Linked DNA regions of Homo sapiens: region 1 is linked to region 2. The links come from fine-mapping of genetic effects on gene expression. A gene starts in region 2. The other region holds a variant in brackets. All regions are shown on one strand. Distances are between the middles of the regions.

Region 1 (5,384 bases), 40 kb after region 2:
CTGAAGAAAGTCATGCACACAGTCCAAACCTGAACATTCCTTTCTGTGGACCCCAAGTTTTTAAGACACAGCTTTATTTTCTTAACCAATTGCAAATCAAAGAATCACTGAATCTATTTATGACCTATAAGCCCTGGCTTCAACATATCCTCCTGCCTTTTTGAGCCAAACCAATGTATAACCTCCATGTATTGATTTACAATTTTGCCTATAACTTCTGCTTTCCAGAAATGTACCCCTGCCCTTAAAATCTCTTGCTGATAAGCCATGGGGAGTTTGGGCCTTAAGCATTATCTGACCAATTCTCCTTGCTTGGTATCCTACAATAAATCCTTTTCTTTCTCTCATTGAACATCTTTTTTTATAATTAATGAATAATTTATTTTGTTTTTGTTGCTGCTGTTTACCTACAGCTGTTTATCTCACAGCAAATCTTGATGTCAGCATTTGGCTTTGCTGTGCCAAGTGAGCAGACCCAAGTTCAGTTCAATAACAAATCCAAAAGCCTTTGTTCTCTGCTATTCTTTGAGTTATCTATTCCTTGAGGCAATGAATGACTGAATGGGGGTAGGGATGCAGAGGAAGACCAAGAGGTACAAAAAATATATAGAAAATTTTTAAAAAATATTTTACAATTATTTACCAACTACAAATAGCACTTTTTATTTATTAGTGATGAGGTTCAAGACACATCACCCCAATATATGAGTGTACTGGACTAGAATATATCACCCCAAAATATGCTCCTTTAGCATAAGGATTATGTTGATCTAATTATTTTAAGAAACAGCAGACCTAGGAGAAGCTCTGAAAACAAGAGTAGAAATTACACTTTTGTAAGGAAAATTTGCATTTACAAAGGAAATCTCCAATTTAAGGGTGTTTTCCTCTCTGCACCAGGAAGAGAAGGATGACTGTACATCATTATACATGCCTACCAATGGAGAAGACACTGACTTAAATCTGCATAACAAACCTAATGCTGTTTTATGGTGTTTTGCCTGGCCATCTTGGCAAAGCTGGACCTTCCCCACCCCGCTCCCTTTTTTTTGTTTCGGTAGATGGAATTCAAACCACCTCTTAGAGAATTACTCATTTTCCCTGTGTATCTCCCGTGGTATAAATGAGACATACATGTTTGTTTTTCTGTGGTTAATCTGTCTTTTGTTATAGGAATTTTAGTTGTATCAGCTAAAAATCATGAAAAGTAGAAAAAAAATTATTTTTTCTCTGCTACATTAGACATGCAATAAATATGTGTGTTTGAGGCTGGGTGTAGTGGCTCATGTCTGTAATTCCAGCACTTTGGGAGGTCAAGGCAGGCGGATCACTTGAGGTCAGGAGTTCGAGACCAGCGTGACCAACACGATGAAACCTTATCTCTACTAAAAATACAAAATTAGCTGGGCACAGTGGTGCATGCCTGTAATTCCAGCTACTTGGGAAGCTGAGTGTTATAAATAAACTTTTGGCGCCACAAAAGAAATAGCACTCAAACATAAATTTAATTTTCTCAGCAAGGCAATTTTACTTCTATAGAAAAGTGTGACTCGTGGATGGAGCAATGGTGAGAGCACACCTGAACAAGGGAGGGGAAGGGCTTTTTATTCCTGACACAGGTAGCCCCTACTGCTATGTCGTTCCCTTATTGGCTAGGGTTGGACCACACAGTCTAAGATAATTCTGATTGGCTATTTTAAAGAGAGAAGGAGAACAAGTCGGAGTGGCGGGGTGAGTAGTTTGGTGGGAAGGGCAGTTACAGAAAAGAGAACTCAGGATGATTCAGGTCAGAGCAGGTGACCAGGGATGACTCAGATGGAACAGATGACCAGGGGTGACTCAGGACAGAGCAGGTGACCAGGGGAACAGATGTGAACTGCTGATTAGAACTGGTGGAAAAAGTTGTTTACTGAAACTATGGGCGAGGAGAATGAGGAAGTTAAACTTTAAAATGGAGAACAAAGAACTGAACATACTGACATACTGATTCTTTGAAGAGAAATTTAGAACTCACTGTATTCAACATGAGGCAGGAGAATCACTTGAACCCTGGAGGTGGAGGTTGCAGTGAGCCGAGATCACGCCATTGCATTCCAGCCTGGGCAACAAGAGTGAAACTCGGTCTCAAACAAAACAAAACAAAACAAAACAAAACAAAACAAAACAAAACAAAACATGTTTGAATCTGCTTAACACAACATTTTTAGACGGACCTCTTTTGATGTTCCTAAATCAGGCTGTTAAGGACTATCTTCCATGGGAAAAGGTGACTTAAGAGTGGCAATCACTGATACAGTAAAGTTCTGCTTTGCTGCTTTGCAAAACTTTGCTTTATTCTCATTTTCTGGGGGGGATGTATCCTAAGCCTTAGGCAAGAATTACTTAAATTTAAAATTACACTTAGGTACATGAATATTCATAGCAGCATTAGCCATAATAGTAAAAAACTGGAAACAACCCAAATGTCCATCAATTGATAAACGGGTAAATAAAATGTGGCATATCAATGCAATCAAATATTGCTCAGGAACAAAAGGAATGAAGTACTGATACATGCTGCAACATGTATGAACCTTGAAAATATTATGCTAAGTAAAAGAAGAAAGTCACAAAGGACCACATATTATATAATTCAATTTATATAAAATGTCCAGAATAGACAAACCCACAGAGACAGAAAGTAGATTGTGGTTGCCTAGGAACATGCAGAGAAGGAGGGATACTGGGATTGGGATTTGTGTTAGTCTGTTTTGCATTACTATAAA[A/G]GAATACCTAAGGCTGAGTAGTTTGTAAAGAAGAGAGGTTTATTTAGCTCACAGTTCTGCGGCTGTTCAGGAAGCACGGTGTCAGCATCCGCTCTGCTTCTGGTGAGGCCTCAGGGAGCTTACAGTTATGGTGGAATGCAAAGAGGGAGCTGGCATATCATATGGCAAGAGAGGAAGTGAGAGAGAGGGGAGAGGCCCCAGGCTCCTTTAAACAATTAGCTGTCACGTAAACTAATAGAGCAAGAACTCACTCATCACCAAGAGGATGGCTCAAGCCATTCATGAGGGTTCCACTCCCATGACCCAAACAGCTCTCATCAGGTCCCACTTCCAACATTGGGGATCAAATTTCAACATGAGATTTGGAGGGACAAATATGCAAACCATATCAGGTGTTGATGGTGAAGGGGTGCTGTGTTTCTTTTTGGGGTATTGAAAATATTCCAGAATTTATTGTGGTGATGGGAGCACAACTCTGTAAGTGTATAAAACCTGTTGAATTAGACACCTTAAAAGAGTCACTTGTAGAGTATGTGAACTATACCTCATTACAGCTGTTAGAAAAATGTATACCTTGGTGGTCAAATTGTAGTAGCTAGTGGTGGCTTCAGTTTGCGGAGTTAGAAGAGTAAAGTCAAATATGAGGGTTTTTATATTTTGGGTAACTTTTTCATTACCTAAAAGTGAAATTTTCTCTTTTTGTGGATCTTAGGTGGAATGTAATGTAAGGGAGAAAACCTTTCTCTCTACCCTCTTAAGGTTTGATCATTGAGTCTGGGAAGTAAATAGACAGTAGATAGATTAACAGGAAAAAACAATTTTAATTATGTGCATAGGCATGGGAATCTCACAAAAGATGAGACTCAAAGAAGGGCTAGATGATTAAAGTTTATATAGCATCCTGAGCTACAGAAAGGAATTGGGGCTTGGAGCTTAATTTGGGGGTGGGGCATGACACAAATTATGGGAGGGAAAGGAGAGGAAATGCATGGTGAATAAAAGTTGTCTTGTTATGCAGATAAACAGTCTCCAGAGTAATAAAGGTTGTCTTGGAGCACCCCTCAGAACAGGTGATAGTTTGTGATAATGTCTGGGCTTGGCAATTACCTTCAGTCTGTTCTCCTCCTGTGATACAGTTAATTTTTCCTAATTAATGAGATTCCTGGGGAGGAAACTCATGGCAATTGAGTGCCTTTTTGGAAGATCTATCTTTAGGCAGACGAGGCAAGTTCAGAGACCACCCTTCCCTGTGCTTTTGAAACAGGGGTGAGAGACAGCAGGGCAGAAGTTCAGGGAGGCTTTTTGGTTCTCCCTTAGTTCAAAGCACTCTGCATGAAAGCCCCAAACTTTGGGGTATCATTTTCAGAGCCCCAACAGTAAACTTACAAATTTGCCTATTTGTGTAGACTTGCCTCTTGAGGGTCAGTAGTCAGTATTTTTCTTACTCAGTGAAATTTCAAAATTTACAGAATTGAAATCACTCGGACTTAAATTTTAAAATGTACTTGTGTAAAGAAGATACATATAGTAAAATCCTTTGAAAGCAGACATTGAATCTTTCTGAAAAATGATAGGACATTTGCAGTTTTTATGTGATGATCTAGTTAAATCCATTTGATTTCTTCCCCCTGTTCTGCCTTCTCTTACTGTCCATTCCTCTTCTGGTAGAAAGAGTTGACTGCCTGTGTACAGGTGGCAGAGTTGTTTTCTGTTCATCAGAGTCAGTAGTAGTAAAATTCAGTTGCTGGATTAGCCAAGTGTGCTCTGAATTCTGACCTCTTCAATACAATAACATTTTGCATGACTAAGTCTGTACAGTTTGTTCCAAAACATTACCCTGCAAAGCAGTCTGCAAAGCAGCTTGATCCATGCTTGGACAGCCATCCCCAGCTTGGTCCTCCAGGTTTGTGGACAAGGATCTGGGACACTGAGGGCTTGTAGAGAGTAGATATGGATTGGATTAAGCACAAATGGCAACCCTAGACTACACAGGAAAGTCGTAGTCGGCCACACCTTGGGCTTCCTATGACAGCAGCATATCAGTGCTAACGAGCCAGGGCTTGCAAGCCAAGGCACACCAATGCATTTGCAAACTCCAGAGTCACCATAAGAAAGTCATTTATTCCAACGCTTGTAGAGAGAGGCTGCTTGTCTCTAACAGTATATGTGCAGTGTTGAAAGTAAATCTTTAGATAAGTTAAATTTAACCAAATTTAATTGAGCGAAGAATGACTTGTCAATAGGGCAGCTCTCAGAACCAGCAGAAGTTGAGAGAACTCTGCTCCCCGATATGGGCTGACAGCAAATGAACAGAAAATGGAAGTGAGGTACAGAGACAGCTTGGTTGGTTACAGCTAGGTGTTTGCTTTATTTGAGCATGGTCTGATCAGTTGGTAACCTATAATTGATTGGAGGTTTGCTGCTGTGTTTTACTGCTGAGGCTCAGCTATTAGCTACAAAAATATATTAAATTAGCTTTCAGTCAGTTCATACCAAGTTAGGTTGCATGCAGTTCATTACATAGGGACTCAAGGTATGGAGTCAGCCTCAGATCAAGTTTAGATTAATTAAACAGTGGAGAGAGGGCAGATGTCAGTTTCAGAATCATGGCTGATTGGA
Region 2 (5,384 bases):
GGAAGAAGCCGGAGAACAAGTTAAAGGGTTGGCTTCAAATAGAAGCGAACTGCCTCAACTGAAATAAGCAAGAGTGAGGATGACTGAAAATATACCTTAGTTTGTAGATTCAGAGGTTTGAAGAATTGCCAAAATATGGGACAATGTCATCTGCCTAGAGCAAAGGAGTATATTGGAAGTTCTGAGGTTTGAAGAGAATGGAGTTTTTAAGTAGTAGTTTGGGGAAAGCATGCTGAATAGAGAAGGGCAGTAACTGGGCATGCTTCATTAAGAACCTGTATTCTGTCATGTGGGGCAGATTCTAAATATTTTCAGCTCTCTTACTGCAGGCAAGATAAAGGCAAAGGAGTAGGTATTAGAAGAGAGAGACAAACTTCTAGAGGGAACTAAATTTTTGAAGAGGATTGTCTTCCAACTGGGAAGAGAGGGAAAGCTTTTTGAGGGGAGTAGATCTGAGCTGGGCAAGAGAACACACTTGCTAGAGAAAGAAAATGGCCAGAGAGAGAAAAGGGGAGAAAAAAGTCTGGGGGAGATGGAGATAAAAGCAGAGTAGTGGGGGATTTCTGGCCTAGGTGCAGGAATGTCCTTTTATCTTCCAAAGTAAATGTGGTCACAGTAATATTAACAGTTTGTCATCTGATGTTGTGAAATTGTTTCCATATATTATTTAGACTCTCAGACCTGACAATCTATGGAGGAATTCCCAGGCATCTTTAGCTGCTACAGAGATGCATGAATGAAGGACAAGTATATTATCCTCCACACATTAGAAGAGAGGCTCCAGGGAGCAACAGGAGGCAAAAGTTCTTCTTTTCTTTTTTTTTTTTTTTTTTTTTGAGATAGTCTTGCTCTATCACCCAGGATGGAGTGCAGTGGCATGATCTTGGCTCACTACAACCTCCACCTCCCAGGCTCAAGTGATTCTCATGCCTCAGCCTCCCGAGTAGCTAGGGTTAAAGGCACATGCCACCACACCTAGCTAATTTTTTTTATTTTTAGTAAAGACTGGGTTTCACCATGTTGGCCAGGCTGGTCTTGAACTCCTGACCTCTAGTCATCTGCCTGTCTTGGCCTCCCAAAGTGCTGGGATTACAGGTGTGAGCCACACTGTGCCCGGCCAACATTTATCATTTGTGTTGAGACTATCCCAACCTTTCTCCTCTATTTTGAAATACAAAATAAATTATTGATTACTATAGTCACCCTACTGTGCTGTGGAACGCTACAACTTATTCCTTCTGTCTAACCATATTTTCGCTCCTTTTAACTTCTCTTCATCTCCTTCTCCCTCCTTATCCTTCCCAGCCTCTGGTAACCACAATTTTACTCTCTATCTCCATGGAGTCAACTTTTTTTTAGCTCCCACATATGAGCACCAAACTTCAATGTAAGACCCAAAACTATGCAGCTATTCCAAGAAAACGATTTGAGAAAATGCTTGAAAATGTTGGTCTGGGCAATGATTTTTTTTTTTTTTTTAATTAAGACTTTCTGAAGAAAAGGGCATACTTTTCACTGAAAAAGTTTGAGTTTTTTAAATGAGCAGATACTCATGCATTACTAGTGCAGCCAAAAATTATCAAAAGTAGGGAAGAATGCAAAATAGCGTGTGCCTCTTAACTAAAGAACTGTTAAGATACAAAACTTGGCTCTTTGCTGCCTTTCCCGCACTGCCAAGAGGGAAACATGAATTAGTTACATTGCCGTGGTGCTCACTGGGAGTTCGCTGTATGGACCAGATGGGTACTGCTCCGAATTTCCATTCAAGTCTGACATTCTTTTGTCAGCGTTTGTGTAACCGGTTTTCCTTGCATTCAGAGGAAAGACAGCATGGAAGTATGGATGGGAAGGTTGAGACGATTGGATACTGTATGGTAACCTCGATCGCAGCTCTCCTATGAGACTTGCTTCTTGGATTCTGAGTCACTTAAGCTTGCCCCTTCTCTTTCCTGACCCTCTTCCGTTTCCCCTTAGATTGGAGATTCTCCTCAGATTCTAAGTCTCTGAAATTATTAGTGTTGGCAGCCCCTGGGCCCATGGAGGGGTCTCAAGTCTTCAGTTCTCAAAGATCACCTTTTAAGCTTCATTCGGAACATGACACAGCCACACGAGTCCTAGCCCTGAATCTCACGAAGACCTCAGTACACCTGGAAAAGGCAGCACACCCAGTTACGACACTACTAGAGACGTCACACGCCTCAGCACCCATCCGCTCCCAGCCCAGAACGAGCGCACGCGCAGAACGAGAGAGCGGCCACCCAGGGATCGGCGCTATCTGCACAGCGGTTACAGTCTCGGAAAGGCCTGGCTTCTTCGTGGCTTTGTGGAGATCCCTTACAGCGGCCATTTGATTAGCACCCGAAGAGATTCAAAGGAAGCAGTTGTTCCGTCCCCAACATATTTCCGTTTCAAACCACCCACTTCCGGTTTTTCAGCCGGTTCCGGTCCCGCCCTTCACTTCCGGTCGCTTTCGGTCTCTCAGCGGCCGGTTTCTGCGTCCGCTGCCGCAGGTTCCACCGCGCTCCAGGTGAGGGGTTGCGGGGCACCCTGGCGCGCTGCCCTTGGAGACGCTGTTGGGGCTCGGGGACAGTGGCTTTGCGGCCCGCGCGGCGTGGCTTGCACTGCGGCGGGCTGGGGATAGTGTCTGTCCTAGTCTGACGCCCAGGCCCCTAGCCCCGGCCCGCTTAGTCGCGGGGGCCGCTGTCCTCCCATCCAGCAGTCTAGCCTATTTGGAGGGCTTTCTGTTTCCCAGTGGGTTTTGCGTCCCCAAACTTCATTCCTCCGTCTTCTCAGGCTTGTCCATCCCTCCCCTCAACCTCCTTGTTGAAGGCATCCCGGCCTTTTTGGTTCTGGAGCCTCCACCTGCCTCCTAATGCTCCCCTAAGTCAGTTAGCACAGCCCCCGACCCTGCACCACCTCGCAGTTGTTGCTGGTGTGCGGTTCTCGCCGGAGTTCTTAGTGCTTCACGGTTATCTTTTGCTGGGATTGTTGAAAGTTAACCTCCCGTTAATTCCCAAAGTGTTACTTTTACTGCTATACTTTAAAATTTCTTCATTTGCCACTTTTTAGGTTTGTGGTCCCGGGCAAGTTTAATTTCTTTTCAGGATTCTCATTTGTATAATGAGGACAACAGCTGTTGGTTCAGGATTGTGAAGCTTCAATGAGATAATTGTTTAGCATGTTTTTATTCCATCATGAACACCATTTGTATTGTGTTTTACAGTTTACAAAGTGCTGTCACAGGTGTTACTTCATACCTTAACACTACTCCTGTCCAGTGAATATTAGTAGCCTCATCTTGTTGAGAAGACTGAGGCCAAGAGGTGGATTGACTAGGCAAAGTCAACACAGTATGTTAGGTAGAACTCCAACCTAAACAGCTATTCTTGACCCTAGGTTGACCATATGGAAGTGTATTCTTTGCTTGCTTGTTTGGGTTTGCCAACTTCACTCCTCCCCACACCCCAAATCATTTTTCAGCTTATAAATCTGATGGGATCTGAAATGATACAAAATACTAAGAAAGAAGGTTAAATGTGAAAGCAAAATAGCTCATGCATTTATATCACACTGCTTCATTGGTGTGAACGGTCTTAATGATGAAATAAGGTTCAGTAACTTTTAAACAAATCTTAAAGACATATGCATTTACAATTTTTATGGTGTTTGTTTCGCTTGGCCCTTTAAGGCATTTGCCAACTTGGAATTTCCACTTGTGGGATAGGTGCTTCGTAACGTTTTTATGCTGCTTTATTAACCATATAGAGCCCATGCCCTCTGGCACATTTTTTTTAAGGCTGAAAACATTGAAGAGCCTGTAGTACTGACTCTCAAATTTGAGCATTCATCAGAGGTGAGGAGGACTGACCTTGTTAAAACACAGATTCCTAGGTCCCTTCTCTCCACCCCAATTACATTTCTACCAAATTACCAAGTGAGGTCAATGCTGTTCGTTAGCCCAGGGACCATGCTTTGAAAACCACTAGTCTAGAAGAGCAATCACTTGTCCAGGGTCACCTGGAACTCAGATGATTTCACTCCAAACTCTGCACTACTACGCATCACAATATATGCGATATTAGTGCTGGTTGCCTTTCTAGCTCTCGTAGGATTCCCTTTTATTCTTATGTCTTACAGAAAATATTTAAACTGTATTTCAGTTTAACTCAAAAGGTCCACTTTTAATTGAAGAATATAACATTTGTTATAGTTCTGTCTAAAATGGAATACGTTACCCTAAATTAAGACACTTGCTTTACATTTTCAGTAGAACACATTGTAAACATAGGAGTAAATATACATTTATAGTTCATATTTGTATTCATATATGAGTAAATATAAATATGAATTTATGGCTCTCTCTTCTAATTGGCCTTTTAGTAGGAGACACTGTTTTTAAATTATTTTTGGAAGTGGAGATTAAAAATTTAACCTCTTTCTTGCAGTTGGTCCTAATAGTTGCATGAAGAGTGCAATCAAATGTTTCATCAAATAAGTGAAAGCATTGGAAATACCAATACCTTGAGATTAGAAAATCCAGTTCTCTGGACTGTGGGAGGAATGAGTTTAATGAAAAATAGAAAGCTTTATGCAGGAAGAGACATATGTTTGGTTATTTACATGAGTGGCAGCCACTATATAATCTTTGTGTGCTTAGATCTGTACCCATGGGTTTTGTATTTTCTGATTGATATGGTTTGGCTGTGTCCCTACCAAAATCTCAACTTGAATTGTATCTCCCAGAATTCCCACTTATTGTGGGAGGGACCCAGTGGGAGGTAATTGAATCATGGGGGCCGATTTTTCCCGTGCTATTCTTGTGAATAAGTGAATAAGTCTCATGAGATCTGATGGATTTATCAGGGGTTTCCGCTTTTCTGTCTTCCTCATTCTCTCTTGCCACTGCCATGTAAGAAGTGCTTTTTACCTTCTGCCATGATTCTGAGGCCTCCCTAGCCATTGTGGAACTGTAAGTAGCTGGGATTACAGGCGCCCACCACCACCTCTGGCTAATTTTTTTTTGTATTTTTAGTAGAGATGGGGTTTCACCACATTGGCCAGGCTGGTCTTGAACTCCTGACCTAAGGTGATTCACCTGCCTCAGCCTCCCAAAGTTCTGGGATTACAGGCATGAGCCACTGTGGCCAGCCTTGGGTATGTCTTAGCAGCATGAAAACAGACTAATACGGTAAATTGGTACTAGTAGAGTGGGGCATTGCTGAAAAGATACCCGAAAACGTGGAAGCAACTTTGGAACTGGGTAACAGGCAGAGGTTGGAACAGTTTGGAGGGCTCAGAAGAAGACAGGAAAATGTGGGAAAGTTTGGAACTTCCTAGAGACTTGTTGAATGGCTTTGCCCAAAATTCTGATAGCTATATGAACC

The links. PIP is the estimated chance that this variant, and not a neighbour inherited with it, causes the effect. A credible set is the group of variants that fine-mapping cannot tell apart.
Region 1: its variant is the best candidate, but not a certain one, in a credible set for the expression of UBLCP1 in whole blood (INTERVAL, PIP 0.80).

What each region holds. Positions count from the first base shown.
Region 1 is chr5:159,300,595-159,305,978 of GRCh38, forward strand. No RefSeq gene overlaps it. Among named protein-coding and RNA genes, the nearest start is that of IL12B, 27 kb to the right of the region's middle. RefSeq lists an enhancer at 1,298-2,497. The variant A/G (reference allele first, on the strand shown) is at 2,766.
Region 2 is chr5:159,260,834-159,266,217 of GRCh38, forward strand. It overlaps UBLCP1 (ubiquitin like domain containing CTD phosphatase 1), which reads left to right and starts at 2,457. Exons shown (of 11, transcript NM_145049.5): 1 at 2,457-2,527. RefSeq lists enhancers at 1,682-2,189, 2,024-2,093, 2,124-2,433, 2,190-2,697.